7 separate regions of the Homo sapiens genome follow, and regions 2, 3, 4, 5, 6 and 7 are each reported to be linked to region 1. The links are microRNA targets in miRTarBase. Many come from high-throughput screens and were not tested one by one. Region 1 holds a microRNA gene; each other region holds the end of a gene's coding sequence. Distances are from middle to middle.

What was found. Region 1 holds the annotated microRNA hsa-miR-4649-5p (UGGGCGAGGGGUGGGCUCUCAGAG, at 1,556-1,579, shown strand). A microRNA usually pairs through its seed, bases 2 to 8, with sites in the 3' UTR of a target mRNA and lowers its output. Matches are read on the target gene's strand: a 7mer-m8 pairs with bases 2 to 8, a 7mer-A1 pairs with bases 2 to 7 and ends in A, and an 8mer does both.
Region 2: miRTarBase lists C5AR2 as a target of hsa-miR-4649-5p. Seed matches in the 3' UTR shown: 7mer-A1 at 3,184-3,190.
Region 3: the mRNA of ATAT1 is a reported target of hsa-miR-4649-5p. The part of its 3' UTR that is shown has no 7-base or 8-base seed match.
Region 4: miRTarBase lists PIGR as a target of hsa-miR-4649-5p. Seed matches in the 3' UTR shown: 7mer-A1 at 3,020-3,026.
Region 5: miRTarBase lists SLC36A1 as a target of hsa-miR-4649-5p. Seed matches in the 3' UTR shown: 8mer at 706-713.
Region 6: miRTarBase lists ZNF282 as a target of hsa-miR-4649-5p. Seed matches in the 3' UTR shown: 7mer-m8 at 2,073-2,079.
Region 7: miRTarBase lists ORC1 as a target of hsa-miR-4649-5p. Seed matches in the 3' UTR shown: 7mer-A1 at 3,162-3,168.

The regions. Positions count from the first base shown.
Region 1 is chr7:44,109,296-44,113,370 of GRCh38, forward strand. It overlaps MIR4649 (microRNA 4649), which reads left to right and starts at 1,554; the gene lies at 1,554-1,617. AEBP1 (AE binding protein 1) reads left to right here. Exons shown (of 21, transcript NM_001129.5): 9 at 1-46; 10 at 720-829; 11 at 912-1,051; 12 at 1,430-1,514; 13 at 1,618-1,762; 14 at 1,859-1,944; 15 at 2,212-2,335; 16 at 2,559-2,755; 17 at 2,847-3,026; 18 at 3,263-3,614; 19 at 3,696-3,835; 20 at 3,957-4,056.
Region 2 is chr19:47,341,535-47,345,609 of GRCh38, reverse strand. C5AR2 (complement C5a receptor 2) reads right to left here. Exons shown (of 2, transcript NM_001271749.2): 2 at 1-4,075. The coding sequence ends at 3,797. Among named protein-coding and RNA genes, the nearest start is that of DHX34, 5.7 kb to the left of the region's middle.
Region 3 is chr6:30,645,937-30,650,011 of GRCh38, forward strand. ATAT1 (alpha tubulin acetyltransferase 1) reads left to right here. Exons shown (of 13, transcript NM_001413067.1): 11 at 1-38; 12 at 131-173; 13 at 533-885. The coding sequence ends at 707. It overlaps C6orf136 (chromosome 6 open reading frame 136), which reads left to right and starts at 1,197. Exons shown (of 6, transcript NM_001161376.2): 1 at 1,197-1,910; 2 at 3,622-4,023. The coding sequence starts at 1,296.
Region 4 is chr1:206,926,502-206,930,576 of GRCh38, forward strand. PIGR (polymeric immunoglobulin receptor) reads right to left here. Exons shown (of 11, transcript NM_002644.4): 11 at 2,021-3,912. The coding sequence ends at 3,817. Among named protein-coding and RNA genes, the nearest start is that of FCMR, 6.6 kb to the left of the region's middle. RefSeq lists enhancers at 3,101-3,150, 3,621-3,910, 3,837-4,075, 3,961-4,075.
Region 5 is chr5:151,487,860-151,491,934 of GRCh38, forward strand. SLC36A1 (solute carrier family 36 member 1) reads left to right here. Exons shown (of 11, transcript NM_078483.4): 11 at 124-4,075. The coding sequence ends at 395. Among named protein-coding and RNA genes, the nearest start is that of MIR6499, 32 kb to the right of the region's middle. RefSeq lists an enhancer at 2,981-3,150.
Region 6 is chr7:149,224,009-149,228,083 of GRCh38, forward strand. It overlaps ZNF282 (zinc finger protein 282), which reads left to right. Exons shown (of 8, transcript NM_003575.4): 8 at 1-2,230. The coding sequence ends at 639. Among named protein-coding and RNA genes, the nearest start is that of ZNF212, 14 kb to the right of the region's middle. RefSeq lists a silencer at 2,599-2,806.
Region 7 is chr1:52,369,945-52,373,944 of GRCh38, forward strand. ORC1 (origin recognition complex subunit 1) reads right to left here. Exons shown (of 17, transcript NM_004153.4): 17 at 2,885-3,431. The coding sequence ends at 3,237. Among named protein-coding and RNA genes, the nearest start is that of CC2D1B, 5.7 kb to the left of the region's middle.

The DNA of each region.
Region 1 (4,075 bases):
AAGGGCGAGGAGTTGGAGGAGGAGTGGACGCCTACGGAGAAAGTCAGTAAGTGGGGGGCACAAGGGGGTGAGGGTGGGGGCCACAGGATGGGGGTGCTGGGACAAGTGACTGGCCCAATGTCACAAACAGGACCCAGGTCCCCGGAACCCTTTCCTACTCAGATTCTTGGGACCCAGAAGGGAGGGGCCCCGGGAGCCCAGGATAGCCTCGCTTGGCTGCCCCAGCCCTGGACCCCAGGCTGGCCTGCTTCAGGAGGGTGGCAGCTCCCCAGGGCCCCTAGTGGCTGGGCGTGGTAGGGGGAGGACCTGGGGCCTTGGTGGGGAGTGAGGACCTCAGGTACCTTCACAGGTATCCCTGCAGGGCCATTGTGCAGACGGTCCCCATCTGGATGACATCTGTGGCTGCGCCCTGGGGGAGCTCTACCTGTGATTTCACGTGTGTCCCCTGAGAGCTGGGCATGGTCAGCCCGTTCTCCAGATGGGGCAGCTGAGGCCCAGGGAGGGGAAGCACAGGCTGGGATTGGAAACAGCTCCTGGCCTGGCTTTGAGTCGATTCCAGGTGGGCTGGTGCAGGGCACCAGGGAGCCACCAGCTGACCAGAGCTGCCCTCTGACTGTGCCCCCGATGTGCCGGGAGTGGGCTCTGGGCTCCTTGGTTCTGGGTTTGGTGGAGGGAAGGATGGAGCTAGTGAGCCACCATTCTGGGGTACGCGTCCTCAGAGTGTCCCCCCATTGGGATGGAGTCACACCGTATTGAGGACAACCAGATCCGAGCCTCCTCCATGCTGCGCCACGGCCTGGGGGCACAGCGCGGCCGGCTCAACATGCAGGTGGGCATTGGGATGGGCCCATCTCCCAACTGGGATAAGGGACTCCTCCGCCCATGCTCAGCCTCCCCTGCCCCCTGGACAGACCGGTGCCACTGAGGACGACTACTATGATGGTGCGTGGTGTGCCGAGGACGATGCCAGGACCCAGTGGATAGAGGTGGACACCAGGAGGACTACCCGGTTCACAGGCGTCATCACCCAGGGCAGAGACTCCAGCATCCAGTGCGTGGCCAGGCTCATGGATAGTTGGCAGAGGGGAGTGGCTACATAGGCATGGCTCTGTGTCCCATTAAGGAGATTCCAGTGGGCCCTTCTTTGGCCCAGCCAAAGAAGGCCAAAAAGATCAGTGAGGGACTCACCCTGCCCATCCCCACTCCTCAGCCTGGTCAGTCAGCCCCTGTGTCCTGATAGCACATGAGTTTAGGGACAGATCACCTGCCCATGGCTATGTGACGGGCATAGGACCCAGGCTCAACACCTGGGCCGTGCAGCACCACCCTGCTAGCTCTTAAATTCTTGGGGCTCGGAAGAGGGAGGCTCAGGCCACCTGAGGGCCTGGGAGGGGGAAGACCCTTGCTCTGACCACTGTCCACTCCACAGTGACGATTTTGTGACCACCTTCTTCGTGGGCTTCAGCAATGACAGCCAGACATGGGTGATGTACACCAACGGCTATGAGGAAATGGTGGGCACCATGCCCAGGCTCTTGGCTCTGCTCCCATTGTCTGGGCGAGGGGTGGGCTCTCAGAGGGGCTGGCAGTACTGCTCTGAGGCCTGCCTCTCCCCAGACCTTTCATGGGAACGTGGACAAGGACACACCCGTGCTGAGTGAGCTCCCAGAGCCGGTGGTGGCTCGTTTCATCCGCATCTACCCACTCACCTGGAATGGCAGCCTGTGCATGCGCCTGGAGGTGCTGGGGTGCTCTGTGGCCCGTGAGTGTGGAGGGCTGGCAGGGGCTCTGAGTGGAGGTGGGGTGCTAGGGTGGGCCAGCCGGCACCCAGCTAAAGACAACCCCGCCTCCCTTGCAGCTGTCTACAGCTACTACGCACAGAATGAGGTGGTGGCCACCGATGACCTGGATTTCCGGCACCACAGCTACAAGGACATGCGCCAGGTTGGGAGCATATATCCTGGGGCTGGGGGTGGGACCTGTCTGTGGCTGACGGGAGTGTGTGCCTGGTGCTTCTGTCACTGGGCCCAGTCCCTACTGGTTCCAGGGATGCTGGCTGTCCCTCACCTTAGGAAGGAGGCCAGTACCTGGGGGCTGCGTGAAGGGGTCATGCCCGTCCCTCGCCATAGAGCAGGCCCTGGAAGTGGAAGGGGCATGGTCAGCGGGGGACGGATTGCATGATTGATTCCACGTCCTCCCCCTCTGCCCCAGCTCATGAAGGTGGTGAACGAGGAGTGCCCCACCATCACCCGCACTTACAGCCTGGGCAAGAGCTCACGAGGCCTCAAGATCTATGCCATGGAGATCTCAGACAACCCTGGGGAGCATGAACTGGGTGAGGGTCTGTGGGGGCCAGCAGCTGGCCTCTGCTGCTGATGTGCAGAGCTCACTGCCTCCCGCCTGTTCCGGAGCCTCTCTGGGGATTCTGGCTTGTCTTACAGGGCCCTAGGAGCCCCAGCTGTCCCCCAGACCCTCGGGTATGAGGTGGGTCTGGGTCCTTCCTCAGCTGCCCTGGGCCTCGGGAGACTGAGTGCTCACTGAGGCTCCCGCCCTTGCAGGGGAGCCCGAGTTCCGCTACACTGCTGGGATCCATGGCAACGAGGTGCTGGGCCGAGAGCTGTTGCTGCTGCTCATGCAGTACCTGTGCCGAGAGTACCGCGATGGGAACCCACGTGTGCGCAGCCTGGTGCAGGACACACGCATCCACCTGGTGCCCTCACTGAACCCTGATGGCTACGAGGTGGCAGCGCAGATGGTGGGTTGAAGGGTGAGGCTGGCCAGGGTCCAGGCAGCTGGGGGTTGTGGGGGTGTGGGTAGCCGATGCCTACCCTGCTGGCTCCCCACAGGGCTCAGAGTTTGGGAACTGGGCGCTGGGACTGTGGACTGAGGAGGGCTTTGACATCTTTGAAGATTTCCCGGATCTCAACTCTGTGCTCTGGGGAGCTGAGGAGAGGAAATGGGTCCCCTACCGGGTCCCCAACAATAACTTGCCCATCCCTGAACGCTACCTTTCGCCAGATGCCACGGTGAGGCTACAGCCTGGCTGAAAGGGCAGGAGGGAGCAGCTGGACCCTGGGGTCCTGGTGTTCTGGGCTTGGGGGTGGGGCTGACGGTGCCTGAACTCCAGACGCTGAGGCTCTGGGGGTTGGGGGACAGGGGATCGTGCGAGTACTGGTGTGAAGCTTCATGGAGGGTGATCGGGCTAGGTTGGGGATAGTGGCCGGAGCTGCAGCCCTGGCCTCACACGTGCTGGCCACTCCAGGTATCCACGGAGGTCCGGGCCATCATTGCCTGGATGGAGAAGAACCCCTTCGTGCTGGGAGCAAATCTGAACGGCGGCGAGCGGCTAGTATCCTACCCCTACGATATGGCCCGCACGCCTACCCAGGAGCAGCTGCTGGCCGCAGCCATGGCAGCAGCCCGGGGGGAGGATGAGGACGAGGTCTCCGAGGCCCAGGAGACTCCAGACCACGCCATCTTCCGGTGGCTTGCCATCTCCTTCGCCTCCGCACACCTCACCTTGACCGAGCCCTACCGCGGAGGCTGCCAAGCCCAGGACTACACCGGCGGCATGGGCATCGTCAACGGGGCCAAGTGGAACCCCCGGACCGGGAGTGAGTCAGCCTGGGAGGGGCTGTGGGCGGGGCCTGGTCCGGAGAGGGGCTGACTTTGGGTCTGTATCTGTCCCCGGCCAGCTATCAATGACTTCAGTTACCTGCATACCAACTGCCTGGAGCTCTCCTTCTACCTGGGCTGTGACAAGTTCCCTCATGAGAGTGAGCTGCCCCGCGAGTGGGAGAACAACAAGGAGGCGCTGCTCACCTTCATGGAGCAGGTGGGGTGGCTAGGGCAATGCCTGGGGAGAGGAGGCTGCACAGGCTCCTGGATGGGCGGGAGGGAGCAGCGGACCACATTGGACCTTCCTGAGGACCAGCAGCCCTCACCTGCTTCCCTAGGTGCACCGCGGCATTAAGGGGGTGGTGACGGACGAGCAAGGCATCCCCATTGCCAACGCCACCATCTCTGTGAGTGGCATTAATCACGGCGTGAAGACAGGTACCTAGTGTGCACACCT
Region 2 (4,075 bases), not on the chromosome of region 1:
CCTGAGGTCGGGAGTTCGAGACCAGCCTGGCCAACATGGAGAAACCCCGTCTCTACTAAAAATAAAAAAAAAAAAACATTAGCTGGGTTTGGTGGCACACGCCTGTAGTCCCAGCTACTGGGGAGGCTGAGGCAGGAGAATCGCTTGAACCTGGGAGGCGGAGGCTGTGGTGAGCTGAGATCGTGCCATTGCACTCCAGCCTGGGCAACAAGAGTGAAACTCCGTCTCAAAAAAAAAAAAAAAAAAAAAAAGTGATACCAGTGCTTTCTGACTGAGCTCCTGTCTACCCTGAATCCAATAGATCCTAAGAGTTAGGCAGGTATATCGTCACCCCTGTCCAGCCTGAAGAAGTCACAGAAGTTGTATCTTCCTCCCTCTACAACCCTTAGGATTAAAGGTTCTCTTATAAAAGGGAGCGGGGAAATGTCAGAGGCATGTGAACCAGAGTGACTCCATCTTGAACAGGAGCTGGGTGAAATAAGGCTGAGACCTATGGGCTGCATTCCCAGGAGGTTAGGTATTCTAAGTCAAGGATAAGGCCGGGAACGGTGGCTCATGCCTGTATTCCCAGCACTTTGGGAGGCCAAGGTGGGTGGATCACCTGAGGTCAGGAGTTCGAGACCAGCCTGGCCAACATGGTGAAACCCTGTCTCTACTAAAAATACAAAAATTAGCCAAGTGTGGTGGCAGCGCCTGTAATCCCAGCTACTCGGGAGGCTGAGGCATAAGAATCGCTTGAACCCGGGAGGTGGAGGTTGCGGTCAGCCGAGATCGTGCCACTACAATCCAGCCTGGGTGACAGAGCAAGACTTCATCTCAAAAAAATAAAATTAAATTAAATTAAAAAAAATTAGTCCAGTTGTTACCCTTGGGGAATTTACAGTTTAGCTGGGACCTTGTGTTCCAGAGACTCAGAGAAAGGAAGAGCCCATTCTTTCTGGAAGGAGCATAAATCAGGGAGGGCTTCCTGGAGGAAGTGACATTTGAGGGACGCCTTGAAGGAAATTATTGATGATGAAGAGCAAGAGCATTGGAGTCAAAACTGGGATCAAATTCCAGCTGTCTGGTGTTCTTGCTGTGTGATCTTGGGTAAATGACCTCCCCTCCCAGGACCTCAGCTTATAAAATGAAGCATGCCACCCTATCTCCCTGGGCTGTTGTGAGAATGACCTTAAAGGAGAAACTATATGTGAAGTGCTGTTCTGGAGTAATGACCGCAGACACAGGTATCACTACTATGTTATTTATTTATTTATTTATTTAGCGGCAGGGTCCCGCTCCGTCACCTAGGCTAGAGTGCAGTGATGAGATCACGGCTCACTGCAGCCTCAACCTCCCAGGCTGAAGCAATCCTCCCACTTCAGTCTCCCTAGTAGCTGGCACTACAGGCATGTGCCACCAAACCAGGCTAATTTTCTTTTTTTTATTTTTGTAGAGATGGGGTCTTGCTCTGTTGCCCAGGCAGGTCTCCAGCTTCTGGGCTCAAGGGATCCTCCCGACTGGGCCTCCGAAAGTGCTGGGATCACAGGCGTGAGCCACCATGCCTGGCCTACCATGTAATTTAAAAGATCTGAGCAGGTAGAGTTCAAAAGTAAATTCTAGAACAGCATTTTGTAACAGAAATCTCTGTTATGATGGCAATGTTCTATAGCTGTGCTGTCGAATATGGCAGTCACCAGCCATATGTGGCTACTGAGCACTTGAACTATGGCCAGTGTGCCCGAGGAACTAAATTTGAAATGAAAATTTATTCTTTCTTTCTTTTTTTTTTTGAGATGGAGTCTCATTCTGACATCCAGGCTGGAGTGCAGCGGTGTGATCTAAGCTCACTGCAAACTCCACTTCCCGGGCTCAAGCAATCTACCTGCTTTAAGGAGGATTGAAGCAGAAGGATTCAAGCAACTCCCTCCTCAGTAGCTGGAACTACAGGCACGCCCCACCACGTCTGGCTAATTTTTGTATTTTTTGTAGAGATGGGGTCTTGCTATGTCGCCCAGGCTGGTCTCAAACTCCTGGGCTCATGCAATCCTCCCACCTCGGCCTCCCAAAGTGCTGAGATTATAGGCAGGAGCCACCAGGCCTGGCCAATTGATTCGAATTTGAATAGCCACAGATGGCTCTTGATTGTTGAACTGCACAACATAGATCAGAAGGACATTCCAGCCAGTGGCACAGCTTCAGGAAAGATGCAGAAGCGTGAATATAGCCCGAAGGGTGTGTATTAGCTTCCCACGGCTGCTATAACAAATCACCCCAAACATAGTGACTTAAAACAATACAAATGTATTTTCTTAAAGGTCTGCGGATCAGAGGTCTAAAAGTGTCAGGAGGTCTGTGTTCCTTCTGGGAGCTTCAGAGAGAATCTGTTTCCTTGTCTGTTTCAGCTTCTGGAAGCTGCCTGCATTTCTTGGCACCTCCTCACGTCACTATGACATCTGCTTCCGTTGTCACCTCCTGTGACTGACCCTGACCCTCCTGCCTCCCTCTTAAAAGGACCCTCGTGACTCCATTGAGCCCACCCAGACAATCCAGGATAACCACCCCTTCTCAAGATCCTTTACTTAATCTCACCTGCAAAGTCCCTTTTGCCATGGAAGGTCACCTCTTCACAGGTTCAGGGGATTAAGATGTGGACATCACCGGGGGTCATGATTCTGATTGCTACAGGGTCTGAGAAGCTAGAGAGTAAGTGTGTCCAGTGGTGGAGAGAAGCCTTGAATGCCGAGCTAAGGAGCCTGGACTTGGCCTTTCCTTCAAAATAGATGCATGACCTGTCAGCCTCTCACCACCTCAGCTCTGTTACCCTGATCCAAATCGCTATCACCTCCTGCTTGGACCATTACAGTAGCCTCCTCTCTGGGATCTTCACTGCCCCTACACCATACTCTCACCTCCACCAGCAACCAGAGGGATCCTATTAAAATCTTTTGGCCGGGTGCGGTGGCTCACGCCTGTAATCCCAGCACTTTGGGAGGCTGAGGCGGGTGGATCACCAGGTCAGGAGATCAAGACCATCCTGGCTAACAAGGTGAAACCCCTTCTCTACTAAAAATACAAAAATTAGCTGGGCATGGTGGCGGGCGCCTGTAGTCCCAGCTACTCAGGAGGCTGAGGCAGGAGAATGGCGTGAACTCAGGAGGCGGAGCTTGCAGTGAGCCGAGATTGTGCCACTGCACTCCAGCCTGGGCGACAGAGCGAGACTCCATCTCAAAAAAATAAATAAATAAATAGAATCTTTTATTTATTTATTTTTTGAGACGGAGTCTCGCTCTGTCGCCCAGGCTGGAGTGCAGGGGCTCAATCTTGGCTCACTGTCACCTCTGCCTCCCGGGTTCAAAACGATTCTTCTGCCTCAGCCTCCCAAGTAGCTGGGACTACAGGCATGCGCCACCATGCCCGGCTAATTTTTGTATTTTTAGTAGAGACAGGGTTTCACCATATTGGCTAGGCTGGTCTTGAAGTCCTGACCTCAAGTGATCTACCTGCCTCAGCCTCCCAAAGCCCTGGAATTACAGGCGTGAGCCACCGCAAATGGCCCTATATATCTTTGTTTATAGTCTGTCTTCCTCCACTAGAAGAATATCAGCTCCCTGAGGGCAGGATTTGTGTCTGTTTTGGTCACTGCTATATCTCTAGTGCCTAAAAAGGCCTTGCACATAGCAAGTGCATGATGGATATCTGTTGAATGAAGGAAGGAATAAAATGAAGACATCATTGAGCTCCTGGATCCAGCTATGCCTGAAGCCAGTCTTGTGAAATGAGATAAGAAGATACACACCCACAATGTCTCTCCAGCCTACACCTCCATCTCCGAGACCAGGTCATGGCTGGTGGATTTCTTGCTGTCCACACTTTCGTCCTGGCCCTGGGACTCCCTCAGGGCCCAGTGACAGGCAGCTGGCAGTGACCGGCGGAGTTGAGCCCTCCCAAAATACAGGAAGAGCATGGGATTGAGGCAGCTGTGAGCGAGGGCAAGGCCCACGATGAGGGGTTCAGCCCGCAGGGCCCTGGCCAGGAGTGCGGAGTTCGGGGCCGCCACAGTGAGCACCAGCCCCAGCAGGTGGTAGGGTGCCCA
Region 3 (4,075 bases), not on the chromosome of region 1:
CCGCCATGGGGGGGTGAATTCCTCATCCCCCAATACAGGTAAGTATTCACTCCTCCCTACCCTCAAATCAAGTAGGCCACATTCACTGTCTACTCCTGCCTTCCCATTCACATGCCTGATATTTCCACAGGCAACCAAGACTCCAAGCAGGGAGAACAGGAAACAAAGAATAGGTGAGGTCTAAACCCCTCCCCTAACAGCCTCCCACCACCATCTGACTCCCTTCCTAACATCATTCTCAGTCACTTCCTACTCTTAAATCTTATTGTATGAACTGGACACCAGCTCCTCCCACAATTCCTTCTACCTTACATCCTGCAAGCCCCTTTCCCCCACAGGTTCAACTCTGGTACTTCCCTTTGGAATACGGATTCTCTGAGAGGTTTTAAATTTGGACATAGCACTAATGGTTCCAGCTTCATACCCATCATGTGTCCTACATTAAAACCTGGCCCGAGACCTTGAAGAGTCTGTAATCTTAATTTCCTCTTTAGTATTCCTATAACCCACTCTCCATCTCCCCACCTACCAGGTCTGCCAGTGAGGAGCAGGCCTTGTCACAGGATGGGTCTGGGGAGAAGCCCATGCACACAGCTCCTCCACAGGCCCCGGCCCCGCCAGCCCAGTCCTGGACAGTGGGTGGGGACATACTCAACGCCAGGTTCATTCGAAACCTGCAGGAACGTCGCAGCACCAGGCCTTGGTGACCGCAGCCCCGTCAAACATCTTCAAAGTATTATTTCTCCCTCACTACAGGAAAGAGCCAAAGCCCAACCCTCATAATAGATGGATACATTCATTCATTCATTCATTCAGCAGGCTTATCAGATTCAAGTCATTTGTATCTTTTAACCAGACCAATAAAAGTATTTATTTTTATCACAAGAGCTGTTGAAAAATTTGACTCATTATTTCAGCCGCCTCACCCCTCACTGTCGTTGCACCCATTCAGCCTTCAGCCCTGTTTTTGCTCAGCTTTTTGCTCAAAGGCCTCAGCTGTGAATACAGCGCTTGGGGGGGCGGGGGAGGCTGTAACTTGCGCAAGCGCACTCAGGCAGTCTCCGAGCCCGCGGGCGCAGGCGCGCTTACAGCCGACAGAGCGCTTCAGCCGCTTCCCTCGAGCCTGCAGTGCGCAAGCGCGGGACATCTCCGTTTCCCTCCCTCAGCCCCTTCCCCCCCTACCCCCCCGCCCCGGCCTCCTTTCCCCTTCACGAAGCCGGCTCTGGGGCGCGCTCACCCCTGTGAGGAGGCCGGAGGTCGGACTCAGGAGGCTCCTTCTCCACTCCCGGAAGATCATGTACCAGCCCAGCCGGGGTGCGGCCCGGCGTCTCGGCCCTTGCCTGCGCGCCTACCAGGCTCGACCCCAGGTGAGCGGAGGAGAAGAGGGAGGGAGGAGAGGGGGCGGGGAGAGACCCTCCTCAAAGCCGGTGCGTGGGGCGGAGCGCGCGCTGGGTTCCGCGCAGGCGCAGAGACACCCGCCGCCCCTTCCCACCTGTGCCCTGCAGCGCGTGGACAGGCTAGGGGTCGCGGGAGCGGGAGGGAGGCGCTGCCGGGCCTGTCGCGCAAGGACGTCGGTCCTCCCAGGTTTGAGGGCGGTCAGGCGGGGTCAAGGCCAGGCAGCGGGGCGCGTCTGCGTTGCGCCCGACTCTCCGCGGTTACCTGTGCCTAGAGGTGATTTGAAGGGCAGGGGCCGAGAGATTCGTAGCCCTGCTGCGGCGCCGTCCCGGAGTTCCCCGGCCCAGACCAGACCCGCGGGGCGCCCTCAGCAGCCCGCCCGTCTTGCACTCGGAGAGCGGTCCTGGCAGGAAGGCCGGCCAGTGTGCACCCGGTTCGGGCCCCTGCGCCCGGGCTGGCAAGATGGCCACGCCCCCAGCAGAGACGGCGCCTCTAGGACACCATCGGGGACCGAGGTACCCGAGCGGTCCGCCCGCCTTCCCTGCAGTGAGACGATCCCCTGGGGGGTTCCTTGGGAGCGGAGGGACTCGGGTGAGGCCTAACTTTGGGTGACCTCCCCTTGCAGTTTCAACGTCGGTAAACCCAGGAGAGTGAAGGCCAGCCTTTAACTGTCTCCTGAGGTTGTGTCTGTCATTAGAGGGGCCCGAAATGATAATAGCTTCCATTTATGTACTGCTTTCTAGGTCGCTACGTTTTGTTTACATTCATTATTTCATATAGGCCTCATAACCCAGTGAGGCTTTATTGTTCTCATTTATAGGACATTTGTAGGAAGCGGAGGCATAGGGAATGAGAATGCCTAAAGTTACATGATAGAATTCAGATTCCTAGCTTCAGCTGGATATTCTTTTTTCTCTGTACATTTGCCTCGCACACTTAATCATGGAGATGTACAGGCCACAGCATTTAATCCACAGTACAATAAAACCTGTTATTCGTTAACTCATCAAGTATGTATTACATGATTCTTGCGATAAGAGAGGTGAAACTGCCCCCAGTGTTGGAATCTTTTTTTTTTTTTTTTTGAAATGGAGTCTTGCTCCGTCACCCAGGCTGAAGTGCATTGGCACCATCTCGGCTCACTGCAATCTCCGTCTCCTGGGTTCAAGCAATTCTCCTTCCTCAGCCTCCCGAGTAGCTGGGACTACAGGCTCCCGCCACCACACCCGGCTAATTGTTTTGTATCTTTAGTAGAGATGGGGTGTCACCATATTGGCCAGGCTGGTCTCGAACTCCTAGACCTCGTGATCCGCCCGCCTCGGCTTCCCAAAGTGCTGGGATTACAGGCGTGAGCCACCGCGCCCGGCCACATTTCTTTAAGATTCCAACACTGGGCCGGGCACGGTGGCTCACGCCTGTAATCCCAGCACTTTGGGAGGCCGAGGTGGGCGGATTACCTGAGGTCAGGAGTTCGAGAACAGCCTGGCCAACATGGTGAAACCCCATCTGTAACTAAAAATACAAAAATTAGCCGGGCGTGGTGAAGGGTGCCTGTAATCCCAGCTACTCGGGAGGCTGAGGCAGGAGAATGGCTTGAACCCAGGAGGCGGCGGTTGCAGTGACCCGAGTTCGCGCCAATGCACTCCAGCCTGGGCGACGGTGAGACTTCGTCTCAAAAAAAGAAAAAAAAGTAAAATGTCTGCTAGGTTTTGGGAGGTGCCGGTATTTATGTCACATAAAACAGTTTGCTCGGCTGGGCGCGGTGGCCCACGCCTGTAATCCCAGCACTTTAGGAGGCAGAGGCGGGTGGATCACGAGGTCAAGAGATGAAAACCATCCTGGCTAACATGGTGAAATCCTGTCTCTACTAAAAATACAAAAACTAGCTGGGCATGGTGGCGCGCGCCTGTAGTCCCAGCTACTCAGGAGGCTGAGGCAGGAAAATCACTTGAACCCGGGAGGCGGAGGTTGCAGTGAGCTGAGATCGTGCTACTGCACTCCAGCCTGGCAACAGAGCGAGACTCCATCTCAAAATAAATAATAAAATAAAATGGTTTCCTCCTGTTTTCAGTAGAGATGGAGATGAATCCATCCCTTTTTTCCTATAGTAATTCCATCCATTCTGTCAGGAGGAATAGGTATTGGAAGCCTGTTGAGCATCCAGGGGATCAAGGGGTGTTAGACAAGTGGATTCTTATCTTTCTCCCTTCTGTTCTTTCTCCTTAGGACCAGCTTTATCCAGGGACTCTACCATTCCCACCCCTTTGGCCCCACTCCACGACAACCACTTCCCCATCTTCTCCTCTATTCTGGTCTCCCCTGCCCCCACGCCTTCCCACCCAGCGTCTTCCCCAGGTTCCCCCACTACCTCTCCCTCAGATCCAGGCCCTCAGCTCAGCATGGGTGGTTCTCCCTCCAGGAAAGGGGGAGGAGGGACCAGGACCTGAGTTGCATAGCGGCTGCCTGGATGGGCTTAGAAGCCTTTTTGAGGGACCTCCCTGCCCCTATCCTGGGGCTTGGATACCTTTCCAAGTCCCTGGAACTGCCCACCCTTCCCCTGCCACCCCGTCAGGAGATCCTAGTATGGAGGAACATCTGTCTGTCATGTATGAGAGACTGAGACAAGAGGTAAGTCAGTGCAAAAGTGGCCTTCGTCTACAGTGGGAAGGATGTGGGTAAT
Region 4 (4,075 bases), not on the chromosome of region 1:
CTCTCCATGCCTGCCTTGCTCCACAGCCTGCTGGGACCTTTGGTCTCAGTCTCACAGCTTGCCTCTCAGCATGTCCACTGTCCACTTAGACATGTAGCCTTTTTGAGATGATCTCTTATTTTTGTTGCGCAGACTCCTTAGTAGAGATAATTATTTTAGGAAAGCTGGGAGGGATGGGGTGGGAAACTCTACTTGTTTCTCTGCCTGGGGGACCGGTTTCATAGACCATAGCACAGTCAGTTCCTCTCGCTGCTGTTTAATGTTCTTAGGAGAGATGTTCTGTCTTGAGTTTTGGAAAAGTCTAAATCAGAGATCTATTTTTTAGCTTTACAAAACAAAATCAATTGCTATAAACAAGTTCCTGGCTGGGTGCAGTGGCTCACGCCTGTCGTCCCCATGCTTTGGGAGGCAGAGGCAGAAGGATTGCTTGAGGCCAGGAGTTCCAGACCAGCCTGGGCAACAAACAAGACCCTGTCTCTACCAAAAAAAAAAAAAAAAAAAAAAAAAAAAAAAAAAAAAAAAAATTCCTAACCACTGTTTGGCCTTAATAATGCCCAGCAGTGGTTGAGCATTAATAATAGTTGGGCCTTCATAATAGTCCTGTTGGGCCTTAATAATAGTCCTGTCTTTACATATTGGACTTTTAAAAAAGAATAAACATTAAGATAATTCAAGAACTTGGGAAAGATTTCCTTGTCATCAAATGTTTAAACAGTTCCTTGAATGCTCGGGGCCACTGACCGTTGCTAATTGGTTTATCATCATCAATCCTGCAGTTTATGGTCACTCCCCTATACTAAGCTGAATCATATCCTCTCCAAACTCACGTCCACTGGAACCTATGAACTAGCTTCCTTATTTAAAAGGGTTTCTTGTGCTACACGGGGAGCAGATGGACTTTGAGCCTTACTGACAATATCACTTAGGAATAATATAAGATCGCTTTTGGCTTTAGTGACATTTCTTGACCTTTGCTTCAAAGGGCTGGGATAGGCTACACGAGTTCAGGACTGGCTCGCTGGTTATTGCAATGCGTACAGAAGTTGCATCTTAATCCTCTACCATAAACATGGCCCTTTGGTGAGTCAGAGAACAGCTTCCTGGAAGGGTAAGACAGTGGTAGTTTCTGACACACCTGTCATTTTGATCCTCCTGGAACGATTTGCTGTCATTCCAGAAGGTATGCATCCCCATCACAGAAGAAAGAAAAAAACATTTCTGATGCCCCCTCTTCTGGCTGGATAGAAGCCCAAGACTCTGACCCAGGTCAGGGCCTGGGAACTGAGACTGGAGTACTGCAGTTAGTGGGGCTGGAGGGAACACCAAAGGAGGCCTGAAGTCTGAGTCCCAGGAAAAGGTAGGCTTGGGAAGCTCATAGCATCCACAGCATTATGTTTAAGGCCTGGGTGGAAGCAAAGGTTCACATCAGGCAGGATGGCAGACTGGGGAGAACTCTCTTGCAGAGAGAACTCTCCACACACAGAAGCCCTGTGGAAGAGTCTAGGGGTGAGATGGGGGGCTAGCTGCCAACAGACAGCTTGGGCAGCCCTTAGAGGATATGACATGGTTCAGCACCAGAACCTAGGAATGATCTTAACAGACAAGGGGGTCCCAGGGTGCCTAAAATTGGGACCAAAGCAAAAGGCAGCCAGATGCAGTGGCTCACATCTGTGATCCCAGCACTCTGGGAGGCAGAGGTGGGAGGATCAGTTGAGCCCAGGAATTCAACACCTGCATAGGCAACATGGCGAAATTCTGTCTCTACAAAAAAATACAAAAAGTTAGCCAGTGTGGTGGTGGACGCCTGTAGTCCAAGCTACTCTGGAGGCTGAGGTGGAAGGATCACTTGAAACCAGGAGGTTGAGGCTGCAGTGAGCCATGATTGCACCACTGCACTCCAGCCTGGGCAACAGAGTGCCCTGTCTTAAAAAAAAAAAAGGAAAAGAAAAAGAAAAGAAAAGCTCTGAAGAGGCTGTCTGGGAGACAGAAGGTATTGGGTGCAAATACAGTCTGAGCCTCGTTGGTGGCAATCACAGTCTTTAATCATTAATTGTCATATTTCTGATTTGTTAGCAAGTGCCAGCTTGTAGGCTGGTTGAAGTACAGAACTCAGAGGAAAAAAGAAATTAAATTTTAGCTTTCTGGAGAGCAGCCCCTCTCTGGCACCATCAAACACTTCTTTGTTTCCCTTCAACTTGGAACTCTTCAAACATCAGGGGTTGTGAGGGTTTGGCCATTCTTTTATCTTGGGTCCATGTGAGTGACAGAAATGGTGCGGCCTGGGAAAGATCTCCCTCCTTTACATTTTCTCTTCTCCCTCCTCCTCCTTATTCTAAAACTGTGCCTCCAACAGAGGGGCAGGGGCTCTTGTAGAGAGATCCCTGGCCCAGGACAGGAGATGCCAAATCTAATTTATCTCACTGAGGGCCTTTGAGAAAAACGCTTCAGGGCCAGGCTCAGTGGCTCATGCCTATATAATCCCAGTACTTTGAGAAGCTGAGGCGGCAGATCACTTGAGGCCAGGAGTTCGAGACCAGTCTCGTCAACATGGCGAAACCCTGTCTCTACAAAAAAAAAAAAAAAAAAAAAAAATTAGCCAGACATGGTGGCCCACATCTGTAGTCCCAGCTACTTGAGAGGCTGAGGCATGAGAATAGCTTGAACCTGGAAGGCAGAGGTTTCAGTGAGCCGAGATTGTGTCACTGCATTCCAGTCTGGGTGACACAGTGAGACTTTGTCTCAAAAAAAAGAAAAGAAAAAAAGAGGCCGGACGCGGTGGCTCACGCCTGTAATCCCAGCACTTTGGGAGGCAGAGGCAGGCGGATCACGAGGTCAGGAGATCGAGACCATCCTGGCTAACACGGTGAAACCCTGTCTCTACTAAAAATACAAAAAATTAGCCAGGCGTGCTGGCAGGCGCCTGTAGTCCCAGCTACTTGGGAGGGTGAGGCAGGAGAATGGTGTCAACCTGGGAGGCGGAGGTTGCAGTGAGCCGAGATTGCGCCACTGCACTCCAGCCTGGGCGACAGTGAGAGACTCCGTCTCAAAAAAAAAAAAGAAAAAGAAAAACGCTTCACTCTTCCAAACCTCAATTTTCTTATGTGTGAAATGGTAAGAATGTGGGTTTATAATTACCTGTGTGTATGCTCATCATACATGACCCCTAAGGCCTTAGGACTCGAGACATTTTATGACCTCTCCCAATAGGGGCAGAGGTGAGCACCCCTGGTGAAAAGTTAAGACTCAGTGAGTATAAATACGCCAAGAAGAGCTGTGGCTTCTTTCACTGGTGTCCTCAGAAAGGCTGTGAGCAGTGTTGGTGGCATACCTGTCACAGCATCTAGCAAAGCACCTGAATTCTAGTATGAATTCAAATACATCTTTTGATGGAAGGAAAGAAGAAGAGGGGAAGGACGGGAGGGAGGGATGGAGTGGAGGGAAAAATTCTGTTGACATCCCATGATAAGGGTGCAGAGGGGCGCTGCACGTCTCTCCTTTCTGCAATCAGCTCTCCCACCCTGGTCCCTCTTCCTTCAAGGGACCCATGAGGACCTCTATTCTTCTCCGTACCTGAGGTTCTCTCAACAGAAAGAAGTTGCAAGTGGGACCTCCTCATGCCACCCTCATCCCCAATAGGAACAATTAGGCCAGGCTTTGATGTCACTGAGGAGGGGACCAGCACGCCTCTGAGGACAGTAGGAAAAACCTAGGCAGGTGTTAGAGCAGGGAGTGGGGTCCCCAGGAGCTGAGGGCCCCAGGATCGACATGATTCTGAAGGTGATTGTCATGGGTGCAGGGAGCAGGCGGCGACACCGTCTAGGCTTCCTGGGGGCCGTCCTGGGCCTCGGCGGCCACGGTGCTGGACTGGAGCAGGAAGTCTTTGTAGGCCATCTCGGCTTCCTCCTTGGATGACTAAGGGGCAAGAGGAGAGGCATCAGTGTTGGGGGCACTGGCTCAGTGGGTGGAGTCAGGGGAGGGGAGGTGCTTAATGTCCTGAATTCGTGATCTTGGTCCAAGCAACACAAGCCTTTGGGGCCCACTGTTCTCATCCCAGCCCCCATGCTCACCAAGAAGG
Region 5 (4,075 bases), not on the chromosome of region 1:
TCTAAGTTTTCTTAGAGCTCTCAATCCTATAAGATGGACAGATGCTGAATTCGCTCAACAGTAGGGAGACAGACCTTTCCCAGCTCTGGGCATCTTAAACAGGCATGTCCTCTCTCCCTGCAGGCATCTTGGCCATCCTCATCCCCCGCCTGGACCTGGTCATCTCCCTGGTGGGCTCCGTGAGCAGCAGCGCCCTGGCCCTCATCATCCCACCGCTCCTGGAGGTCACCACCTTCTACTCAGAGGGCATGAGCCCCCTCACCATCTTTAAGGACGCCCTGATCAGCATCCTGGGCTTCGTGGGCTTTGTGGTGGGGACCTATGAGGCTCTCTATGAGCTGATCCAGCCAAGCAATGCTCCCATCTTCATCAATTCCACCTGTGCCTTCATATAGGGATCTGGGTTCGTCTCTGCAGCTGCCTACCCCTGCCCCATGTGTCCCCCGTTACCTGTCCTCAGAGCCTCAGGTATGGTCCAGGCTCTGAGGAAAGTCAGGGTTGCTGTGTGGGAACCCCTCTGCCTGGCACCTGGATACCCTGGGCCAGGTAACCTGAGGGCAGGGGAGAGGTGGGGTGGCAGACACGCAGAAGTGCTACTAGTGACAGGGCTGCCATCGCTCACCTGTACCTATTTACACCCAGAACTTTCCAGCTCCCCCTCATCATGCCTCCTCCTTCCTACCTGCCTCCCCTCTGCTGGTGCACCTCGCCCAACTCATTCTTACTGCACAGTTCACTTTATTTAACAATTTTCATGTCCCCCACCTCATGTTTTCACCTTTTCTGGGCCAGGCATAGATTAAGTAACTGGGAACGCCCCCTCTTTATAAAGCTGGGCTTCTTTCTCATCTCTCTCCCAAATGTTGTATCTCAGTATTCTTCCTATTCGAGTCTCCAGGGGGTGGCTGGACCTACCTGGTCATTTGAAACAGGCCCCCAAGCTGGAGTTTTTAATCTGGACTCTCTGGCTTGCTGTGACCCCTAAGGCAATGCTTCTCTTCCCTGGATTCCTTAGTGTGGGTCACAGTACTGTGTTCTTAGTTGCTTTAGCTCTTAAAACATACGAAGTGTTGCCTAAACTGAAAATATTTATCTTTTATTTAAAATCAGATTTTTGTTTTTAGACTGTCTTAGATCTGGGGCTATTACGAATCACTTCTTCTTCAGTAAACTTTGACTCAACTTCTCCTGCTGAAAAGAAGCTCGCTCCAGATGTCTGCATGGGTCCTCGGCACTCTTGGCTGAGGACTCAAAGGTTTTAATCAGGATCGTCTAAAAATGTACCTCGGTGAGGAGGCACAGATTTTGCCTCCTGTTGACCAGCCTGGTTTCATACCGAAAAGACATTGAAGGACTGCAGAAATGTATGGGTGCACCGGGCCGAGGGAAGGGTGGCTGAGTGAGAGGCGTATAAAATGGGGCTGTGTGCATGCAGGCCCATGTTTCAGCCTCAGCCCACGCCAGGTGAAAGGATCAGCAATGCTCTGTTGCCATCGTGCTGGGACGACACCAGCTCTATTGCCACCGATGAGTAGCTGAGGTCAGTGTGCACAGAGTTTGAAATTAAGTTAATAGACTTTACAGCAGCTGGTCTGACACTACGCGCAGTGCTCGGTTGTTTACAATCAGTGGGGAAAAGGGCAGAACCAGTGCCCGGCCCCACACTGCCTCTGTGGCCTGGACTTTGAAAGGAACCCACTGAACACTAATTATGAGCCCTGTCTTTCCCCCAGAATGCCTCCCTGGGTTTCACAAACAGCCTTGAGGTTGGCCCTCCTCAAGGTCAGCCTTCAGATTTGGGAGCAAACTTCAGAGAAGGCAGAGGAAGATACATTGCCTTGCTGTGGGCTGCCTCTTCTTTCCTCTTGGTGTGCGAAGTATTTCAGAAGGCCATTGATGAATTCCCCCTCTTTAGCTGTGTATTTGTGCACGTGTGTGTGTACGTGCGTGTGTGTGTGTGTTCCTGTGTAAGTAACAGACCAGACTCCTTTTCTCTTCTGTCCCGTCACCAGGCTCTTGCTTCACTGCAGATACAGTTCACTCTGAAAGCTGGTTGAAGGAGAGCAGCAAAAATGTATCAGGGGTTTTGCTTCTGTGTTTCGCCAAAGCTCATAAGGGCTGTGACCCACCCATATGGCCCCAGTTTTTTCTGTCTCTTCTGTTCCAAAGCCAGGAGAGCTGACTTCCAGGTGAAGGGATGGGAAAAGTGGACTCTCATTGTAGTGACTCCCAACCTACCTAATAATTTGTTAACTTAGGAATATGCTATCATTGTTGACTTGTTCTTCCTTAGGAGAAGGACGATTTTCACCCACCCTTTCTGTTCTATGGTGGACTCTTAACAGGTGCTATGTGACCAGGAATCTAGCCGGGAGTAGCAGAGGCCCTGTCTTCTGAAGTCTCAGGCTTAGAAGTTACCAAAGTGGGCTCAGAAACTGTCATCTCCTGGTTCCAAGTTCGGGCTCTGGCAGCCCAGCCGCTATCTTAGCTGTCTTTCCCAGCGGTGCTAAGAGTGGTCTCAGTGAGAAGGTAGATGCCAACTGGAGGGCCAGACCTGTGTCCTGCCCATGTCCTCCTTGGTGGACGTTTCTGTTTACTCAGAGCTGCTAGAGACCATCCTGCCCATCCGAGTTCTGAGATTGGGACTGTGATGTTGGGACCTGAGGACTGGATGGTAGAATACTGGGGTCCCCCAGCTCTTAGCAGGATGCAGGCTATTGCTTCCACACCCCTGGCCGTGAGAACGTGGTATGTAGGAGAGTTGGCTGTAGCTTTAGGATTTCTGGAAGCCAATTTGGCATGGCCTATTTGATCTCTGGCTTGTGCTCCTGCTACACTGACAGACTGATTGCGTGGCTCTTTCAGAAGACCCAGGAAGGGCAGCTCCAGCCAGAGGACCTTCCTGGCTATGCAGGTGCACAGCTCTTAGGCATCAAGCAAAGGGTCAGCCAGTCAGTAGTAGTGGGAGGAAGCCCTTCCTCCTCTTATGCAAGCAGCTCGCAGCCAGCCCAGAATCTCTTATGCAGCCCAAAGGGCTTCTTGAGGTAGAGAGCCCTCCCCAGTGTCTTCCCAGGATAAGTAGAAATATGATCACAGAGCAACGGAGCAAAGGCTTTCGGGAGTGTGAGGCTGCATCTGCTGGAGCAAAGGGAAACCGTGGGCTTTTCCGGCCAGATACTCTTGAGCTCTGTGACCCTGCTCCTGTCACCCCAATTTCTCCAAGCCAGAGGTAGCTTTCTCAGAGCCCCTTGGTGGTTCTGTCCTCCAAATGCTGCTGTTGGGAGCGGGCTTCCAGCTCTCAGTGGGCAGTGCACCTCCTCCTAAATGCAGGCACTTGCTAGGAAGAGTGTGAGCTGGCGTCTTCTGTTCACCCTGCCTAGCAGTTGTCACCATTCACAAGTGGCATTATTTATGTTGTGCTGCTGTCCAGCTGCTAAGATCCCTTCATCTGCACAAGCCCTGGCTAGATATGTGTGAATGTGTGGCATCATTTCACTTCAGCCGCCCAATTCCATCTCTCCTCTGCAGCCAGATTCACTGGCTGATGCTCACTGCTCACTGTCTATCCCCACGAAATTTAGTTTTATCAGTAGTCTTAAAGTGTTGATCTCAAACAAGTACATTAGAAAAATCATGTTTCTTCTCTCTCATCTTACTTTTTCTTCTCAGATTTCTCCCTTCCTAGAACATTCTCTCTGTTTAGCACTAATGTTCACCTCGTATTTTTTGGAAGTGCAAAAATCTCAATTTGTGTCTGTTTACAGCTCTCTCTCCTCACTGCTCACAGCAAGGGGTTCTGTATCAGTGGATTTCATTTTGTAGCTGCTGAGATGTTAAGGCAAGCCTCAGCATCTGCCCCTGCTGGGTGCACAATGCTGCTTCCTCGAAGAGAAGACACAGAGTCCAAGTGGCAGGACTTGAGGTTGGCTTCCACTCTGCCTTAGAAGTTAATTTTCCAAAGTACATTACAAATCTCTGAGGCCATTAGGGGAAAAGGAAGGGGTGTGGTTTGTCTTTGAAATTACGGTTAATACTTTTAGACAGTAAGTCCGGCTGGTTGCAGGGCTATTTGCCC
Region 6 (4,075 bases), 110 Mb from region 1:
GGCTCCGGCGAGGCGCCGCCGGGTGGGGACCGCAGCACCGGGGGCGGCGGGGGCGATGGGGGCGGTGGGGGCGGCGGCGCGGAGGCGGGGACGGGGGCAGGCGGCGGCTGTGGCAGCTGCTGCCCTGGCGGGCTGCGGCGGAGCCTCCTCCTGCACGGCGCCCGCAGCAAGCCCTACTCGTGCCCCGAGTGCGGCAAGAGCTTCGGCGTGCGCAAGAGCCTCATCATCCACCACCGCAGCCACACCAAGGAGCGGCCCTACGAGTGCGCTGAGTGCGAGAAGAGCTTCAACTGCCACTCGGGCCTCATCCGCCACCAGATGACGCACCGCGGCGAGCGGCCCTACAAGTGCTCGGAGTGCGAGAAGACCTACAGCCGTAAGGAGCACCTGCAGAACCACCAGCGGCTGCACACGGGCGAGCGGCCTTTCCAATGTGCACTGTGCGGCAAGAGCTTCATCCGCAAGCAGAACCTGCTCAAGCACCAGCGCATCCACACGGGCGAGCGCCCCTACACGTGCGGCGAGTGCGGCAAGAGCTTCCGCTACAAGGAGTCGCTCAAGGACCACCTGCGCGTGCACAGCGGCGGCCCGGGCCCCGGCGCCCCACGGCAGCTCCCGCCGCCTCCTGAGCGAGACTAGGGCTGGGCTGGGGGAGGGCAGGGCCGGACGGAGTGGATCGGGGGCGGCCTGAGCACCAACCACCTTGCCGGGTGTCCTCAGCCACCGTCTGGAAATCGGCAACAGGCATTGCACTCCGGTTGGGGGTCCCCCAGGGTGGGGCAGGGATCCCCCAGATCTGTCTGGTCTGAATGGACGCCCAGCTCATCTAGGGTGGACCCAGCTGCTGGGGAAGAGCCAGGGGGACCGCGAGGAGCCGAGCGTCCTCGGGCACCGCCCTCACACCTCCTCGAGTGCCCTGGGACCACTGGGCCACAGATGGTCATCAGGGGAAGCCACCAGGGAGTCCCGAAGCCCTTCTGAGATCAGGAAATCAGGTCCCAAGGTTAGGAGACGCCCTGAAAAAAAGCGAAGGCCGAGGGATGTGCTAAGGGTAACACCTTCATGATGACAACACTGCCTCGCGTTTCAATAGCGCTTTATACTTTTTTAAGTGTTTTCTATCCGTTATCCATTTCACCCTTGGCCTATCCCTCTCAGATAGGTGGGGTAGGATTTTCCTGGTGACCGAGTAAAGTGAGAGGCAGGTGAGACGGTTCACCCAATCACACGGGAAGGGGCGCGCGCTGCCCAACCGCGCTCTCCGCCTACCTCCGCTGCTCGGGAAGCTGCTGGCCTGGCCCTCCTGGTCTCTCTTCCTTTCCTGGTCTCTCTTCCTTTCCTTGCTCTCACCCACGGATAAAACCAGAAGCGACAGGAGGCCAGCTCCTGGGGTTCCTGGGAGCCGGGAACAGATTGGCTACGGAACGCCCCAGGTTGTACATTCAGAGGGCTCTTTCTCCATGGGAGCTCCTGGTGCCGCCTCGGCCCCAGCCTGTCCCCAGCCCCTCAATCTGGTGCAGCAGCATCTTGTCACTGCACAACAGTGGCCTGGTCCCCCACAGGCAGTTAGGGCCCCAGGTCAGACCTCACCATGATGATTTGTTCCAGTTCTCCCAGGGCAGAGGGGCGAGGGAGAGGCTTTTGCTGTGAGAGTAGCCGTCACGTGTCTCTTCCCAGCAGCGCCGGGCAAGTGGGTGCTAGAGTCTGAGCCTCAGGCTCTCCTGCCCTGGGCCTCCCAATTGGTGCTATCTGTTACTGCCCGTGCTCACGGACATGGATACAGACCCTGCTGTGCTCCACACCCTGCAGGCGCCTCGGGAAGCGCCCAAAGGATTCCCCTTCACGTTGGTGCACCTGCTCCATAGCTCCGGGCGCTGCGTCCCGAGGGGCCACAGTCTCCATTTCAGCGTCTTGCATGGCCTGGCACCGGGTGGGGTGGTATGCCCCAGGACCCTTGTTTGTGTCAAAAATGACTTTCCCTGCCCTTGCCGTGGGTCCGGCGTTCCTCCCAGCCGGGATCACAGTGGGCAGCCGGCACCCGGCACCACTTTGGCGAGCGTCCTGCTTCCGCCCTCGCCCTCATCTACGCTGCTCCGCTTTCCTCAGACCCCTTTTTGCCGTGCAAAGGGAATTCTTGACATTAAATAAAAGGTATCCAGATTGCAGACTGCATGTTCACAGAGCTGGGGGTTCTCCAGCTTGCCTACAGTAAAGCCTCAATGAACTGGAATCCAATTCAATGGGGTATTTTTTTTTCTTCATTCTGCTTTTTGAAGGAGACAAATCTTAAGAAAGCAAATTGAGATGAGAAATTAGACAGGGTTCAGTAGAGTTTTGTTAGAGCAGAAGGGGACCCTCCAGTGATCAGTTGCTGGGGGAGGGGGGTAGTGTGCCACTTTTAAAAAGCATATGCACGAAGTATTTTCCTAATCTAGATCATGGAAAGGTCAGAATGTCTTTTGGTTGCAGGAGTGTGAGGAGAGGGGAGACGTCACTTGAGACATGGGTTTAAAACACCTGGCCGGGCGCGGTGGCTCACACCTGTATTCCCAGCACTGGGAGGCCGAGGCGGACGGATCCCGAGGTCAGGAATTTGAGACCAGTCTGACGAAAATGGTGAAATCCCGTCTCTACCAAAAATACAAAAATCAGCCGGGCGTGGTGGCGGGTGTCTGTAATCCCAGCTACTCAGGAGGCTGAGACAGGAGAATCGCTTGAACCCAGGAGGTGGAGATTGCAGTGAGCGGAGATCGCACCACTGCACTCCAGCCAGGGCGACAGAGCGAGACCCCGACTCAAAAACAAAAAAACACCTGAGCACAAGGCTCAGTGTGATCCCTTTATTTTACCTTCAAGGGGCTGATTCCCAAGGAGACCTAGGGACTGAGCTAGTGAGAGCCAAGCCTCTCTGCTTTCCTGTATCCTAGGCTGGTGGATACCACTGCACCAAGTACCCCTCAGCTACACCATGAGTCGCCCCAAGCCCTGGCACAGGTTGCTGGAGCATCCCATAGTGAGCCTCATCCCCAGAGCTGATCGGGGATGGTGACACTCAGGATGTTAGCCTCTGCTGGCTCCCAGGCAGCGAAGATCCTCAGTGAAGACCCTGGAGTCCACATCCTGAAGCAGAACAGGGGTTTTGCTTTGGGGGTGGATTTTTATTTTCCTTCTGAGAAAATGTAGTTTATGTAGAGACAAAGTCTTGCTCTGCCATTCAGGCTGAGTGCAGTGGTGCAATCTTGGCTTACTGCAGCCTTGACCTCTGGAGCTGAAGCAATCCGGTTGGGCGTGGTGGCTCATTCATGTAACCCCAGCACTTTGGGAGGCTGAGGTGGGAGGATTGCTTGAGACCAGGAGTTTCAGACTGCCCTTCCAACATAGTGAGACCCCTGTCTCTAGAGTAAAGAAAAAAATTTTAAAAACAGAGACAGGCCAGGCATGGTGGCTCACACCTGTAATCCCAGCGCTTTGGGAGGCCAAGGTGGATGGATTGCCTGAGTTCAGGAGTTTGAGACCAGCCTGGGCAACATGGTGAAACCCCATCTGTACTGAAATACAAAAAATTACCCGGCCGTGATAGTGGGTGCCTGTAATCCCAGCTACTTGGGAGGCTGAGGCAGGAGAATCGCTTGAACCCGGGAGGCAAAGGTTGCAGTGAGCCGAAATGGCACCACTGCACTCCAGCCTGGGCGACAGAGCGGGACTCCTCAAAAAAAGAGAGAGATAGGATTTCACTCTGTTGTCCAGGCTGAAGTGCAATGATTCAATCATTGCTCATTGCAGCCACGAACTCCTGGGCTCAAGCAGTCTCTTGCCTCAGCCTCCCCAGTGGCTGGGACTATAGGCATGCATGCATCACCACACCTGGCTATTTTGTTTTTCTTTACTTTTTGTAGAGATAGGGTCTTGCTATGTTGCCCAGGCTGGGCTTGAACTCCTGAGCTCAAGCAACCCTCCCACCTCAGCCTCCCAAAGTGCTGAGATTACAGATGTGAACTGCTGCACCTGGCCTTTTATTTATTTATTTATTTATTTATTTATTTATTTATTTATTAATTAGATGGAATCTCACTCT
Region 7 (4,000 bases), not on the chromosome of region 1:
TAACCATCACACTGGCTGATATGGTTTGGCTCTGTGTTCCCACCCAAATCTCATCTTGAATAGTAATCCCATAATCCCCATGTGTCCTGGGAGGCATCTTGTGGGAGGTAATTGAATCATGGTTTCCTTCATGCTGTTCTTGTGATAGGAGTGAGTTCTCACGAGATCTGATGGTTTTATAAGCATCTGGCATTTCCCCTGCTGGCACTCATTCTCTCTCCTGCTGCCCTGTGAAGAGGTGCCTTTCACCATGATTTTAAGTTTCCTGAGGGCTCCCCAGCCATGTGGAACTGTGAGTCAATTAAACCTCTTTTCTTTATAAATTACGCAGTCTCAGGTATTTCTTCATAGCGCGAGGACAGACTAATACACTGGCTCATACAATTTCTTGCATTTCCTAGGCTAAGATTCACCAAATAATCTTCAAAAGTCATTCCACCTCCATCAGCAGGGTATTGGGGTCCCAGTTGTTCTGTGTAACCATAGAAAGGTTTTCTAATAGATGTGAAATGGTTTTGGTTTGCATGCCTCTTTTACTGTTTCCATTTTCTTGGTCATTCGTGTTTCTTCTTTGGATGACTTATTTGTTATTTACCCATTTTTTTCTTTTTCCTTCTTTTTTTTTTCTGAGACAGTCTTGCTCTGTTGCCCAGGCTGGAATGCAGTGGCACAATCTTGGCTCACTGCAACCTCTGCCTCCTGGGTTCAAGCAATTCTTTTGCCTCAGCACCCCTGTAGCTGAGATTACAGGTGCACACCATCACCCCTGGCTAATTTTTGTATTTTTAGTAGAGATGGGGCTTCACCATGTTGGCCGAGCTGGTCTCGAATTCCTGACCTCAGGTGATCTACCTGCCTTGGCCTCCCAAAATGCTGGGATTACAGGTATGAACCACTGTGCCTGGCTCATTTTTTCTTTTTCATTGCAGTTTTAAAAATATTGATATTGATCCTCAATCCATTATATGTAATTATAAATACATATGTGAATATAGAAATACATATTTTTGCTAAATGATTTGAGAATGAGTTGCAGACATAATACATCACTTATAAATATTTCATTATGAATCTCCTAAGAACAGCATTCTCCTACATAATCACAAATTTATCACGCTCGGGGAATTTAACACTTACAAAATACTTCTGTCTAATACATAGTTAATAATGTTTATAATTGTTTATATTTCCTAAATCCAGGACCCAGTCAAGGTTTATATAGTGCATTTAGCTCTCATGTCTCTATTCTCCTTTGGTGTAGAATAGTTCCTCCATGTTTTGTGTTTTTTTTCTTGTGATATTAGTATTTTCAATGAGTTGAACAGCTGCTTTGCAGAGTTTCTCCCTAAATTTAGATTTGTCTGATAATTTTCTCATCAGTAAATTTAGGACAAGCATTTCTGACAGGACTAGTACACGGGTGGGGCTGTTTTTTTTCAGTACCTCATATTAGGTTTTATTTATTTTTTTCAGACGGAGTCTTGCTCTGTCGCCCAGGCTGGAGTGCAATGGTGTGATCTCAGCTCACTGCAACCTCTGCCTCCTGGGTGGGTTCAAGCAATTCTCCTGACTCCCAAGTAGCTGGGACTACAGGTGACACCACCACGCCAGACTAATTTTTGCATTTTTAGTAGAAACGAGATTTCACCATATTGATCAGGCTGGTCTCGAACTCCTGACCTCAGGTGATCCACCCGCCTTGGCCTCCCAAAGTGTTGGGATTACCGGCATGAGCCACCCACGCCCAGCCTCAGTACTTCATGAGGTTTTAGATGTTCATTGCCTGTTGTTGGTTTCCATATAAATATTAGAATTAACTGCAAAGTCATACAAGAAACCTTGCCAAGATTTTGATTGGAATTGATTTCTATCTAGAGATTACTTGCATCTCTTTATTAGACTTATTCCTAGGAGACGGACATGGTGGCCCACACCTGGAATCCCAGCTACTTAGGAGGCTGAGGCAGGATTACTTGAACCCAGGAGGTTAAGGCTGGAGTGAGCTATGATCCATTACTGCATTCCAGCCTTGGTGACAGAGGGAAAAAATAAATAAATAAATAAATATTTAAATCAATTTATTTCTAAGTACCTTATATTTTCTGTGACATATAAATCTTTTGTATTTAAAGGTTTGTTTTGTTTTTATGGTAAATGGTACCTTTGTAAAAATTACACTTTCTAGCTATTTGTGGCTAGAGATTACTTATGATTTATATTATTTCCAGTAGTTCCTTTTTTATAAACTATATTTTATTTATTTATTTATTTATTTATTTTTGAGACGGAGTTTCACTCTGTCGCTCAGGCTGGAGTGCAGTGGCGCGATCTCAGCTCACTGCAAGCTCCGCCTCCCGGGTTCATGCCACTCTCCTGCCTCAGCCTCCCGAGTAGCTGGACTACAGGCGCCCGCCACCACAACTGGCTAATTTTTTTGTATTTTTAGTAGAGACAGGGTTTCACCGTGTTAGCCAGGATGGTCTCGATCTCCTGATCCACCTGCCTCGGCCTCCCAAAGTGCTGGGATTACAGGTGTGAGCCACCGCCCCTGGCCTAAATTTTATTTATATTATTTGAAACTTAAGACAGATAATGACATACAGTGAAAAGTCCTCCTCTAACCCCTAACCCTGGCCATCTGATTCTTTCCATCTGATTCTTTCCAGAGGTAATCAGTGTAACCAGTTTTTTGCATACTCTCCCAGAACTATTTTATATAGATACAAGTAAATCGTGTACTTATATTTTATATATGTTAGCATTAAATAAATGGCAGGCCTAGTAACAGAAATAAAAGTCACATGGAAGGACTATTGTAGGAAGGACAGTTTGGTTTCATAATCAGATGTTTGTAATGATTATAATGTAATAACTTCACAAACACTCAGGAAAAAGCAAATTATTTAATGGAAAATTCCAAAATACATGAGAGCCATTTCCATTCAATATACTTTGTTACAACAATTCCATGTACTTCCAAAATCAGATGCTTTGTAGACTAGCTTGGCAACATGGTGAAGCCCTGTCTCTACAAAAAATCAGCTGGGCATGGTGGCATGTGCCTGTAGTTTCAGCCACCTGGGAGGATGAGGTTGGGGGGTCACCTAAGCCTGAGAAGTCAAGGCTGCAGTGAGCCATGATCGTGCCACTGCACTCCAGCCTGGGCGACAGAGCAAGACCCTGTCTCAAAAAACAAAACCCAGCAAGACCCCAGTCTTTTAACTTGTGAAGCCCCTTTACTCGTCTTTCAGCGCATACAGCACATCATCCTGGCTGACGTTGAGCCGCACCCGAAGGAGCAGATCGTTCCTGCTGGGCTCCACAAGCAGGAGGCGACAGGAGCCCAGGTGAGAACACACGGCCATGGTCTCTGACATGGTGGGGTACGGCAGTCCCTCCATTCTGCACAGTGCCACATGTTGACTATATATCTAGACACAAATAGCAAGGCAAAGGTTAAGAGGAAATACAATCCTGGGGCTTTTTCTGTTCCTTTCTTTCTTCATTTGGGAAAATCAGACACATGGCCCCCAGGATATCAAACACTCCAGAAGGCATCAGTTGGTGCCCCAGTGGTACACAAAATGCAGAGGCAGAATGGAATGCTAGCCTTGGAATCAGAAAACAGCAGGCCCGAATCCTGGTGCTACCATTTACCTAAATATGTAGACCTGGCCAAGTTACTGCACTCTTTTGAGCTTCAATTTTATCTATAAAATACACTGTACATCCCTTGTGAGTTAATGGATATAAAATGACTAGTAACTCTCACTGGTGATACAAATAGTCTTGTCTCCAGGGGCTGAGAGTTTCATAATTGAGACTGTCAAAATTCAAGTCAAATTTTGCTACAAGGCCACTTTCCTTATCAGGTACAGTGAGCAAATGCCAAGGCATGACCCTTGGAAAAGCACAAAGGCCTAGAGAGAAAATTGAATAAAGAAATAAAGGGAGGCAGGAGGATAGCTGGAAACATAGATTCCTACCCTAACGTTCTCTA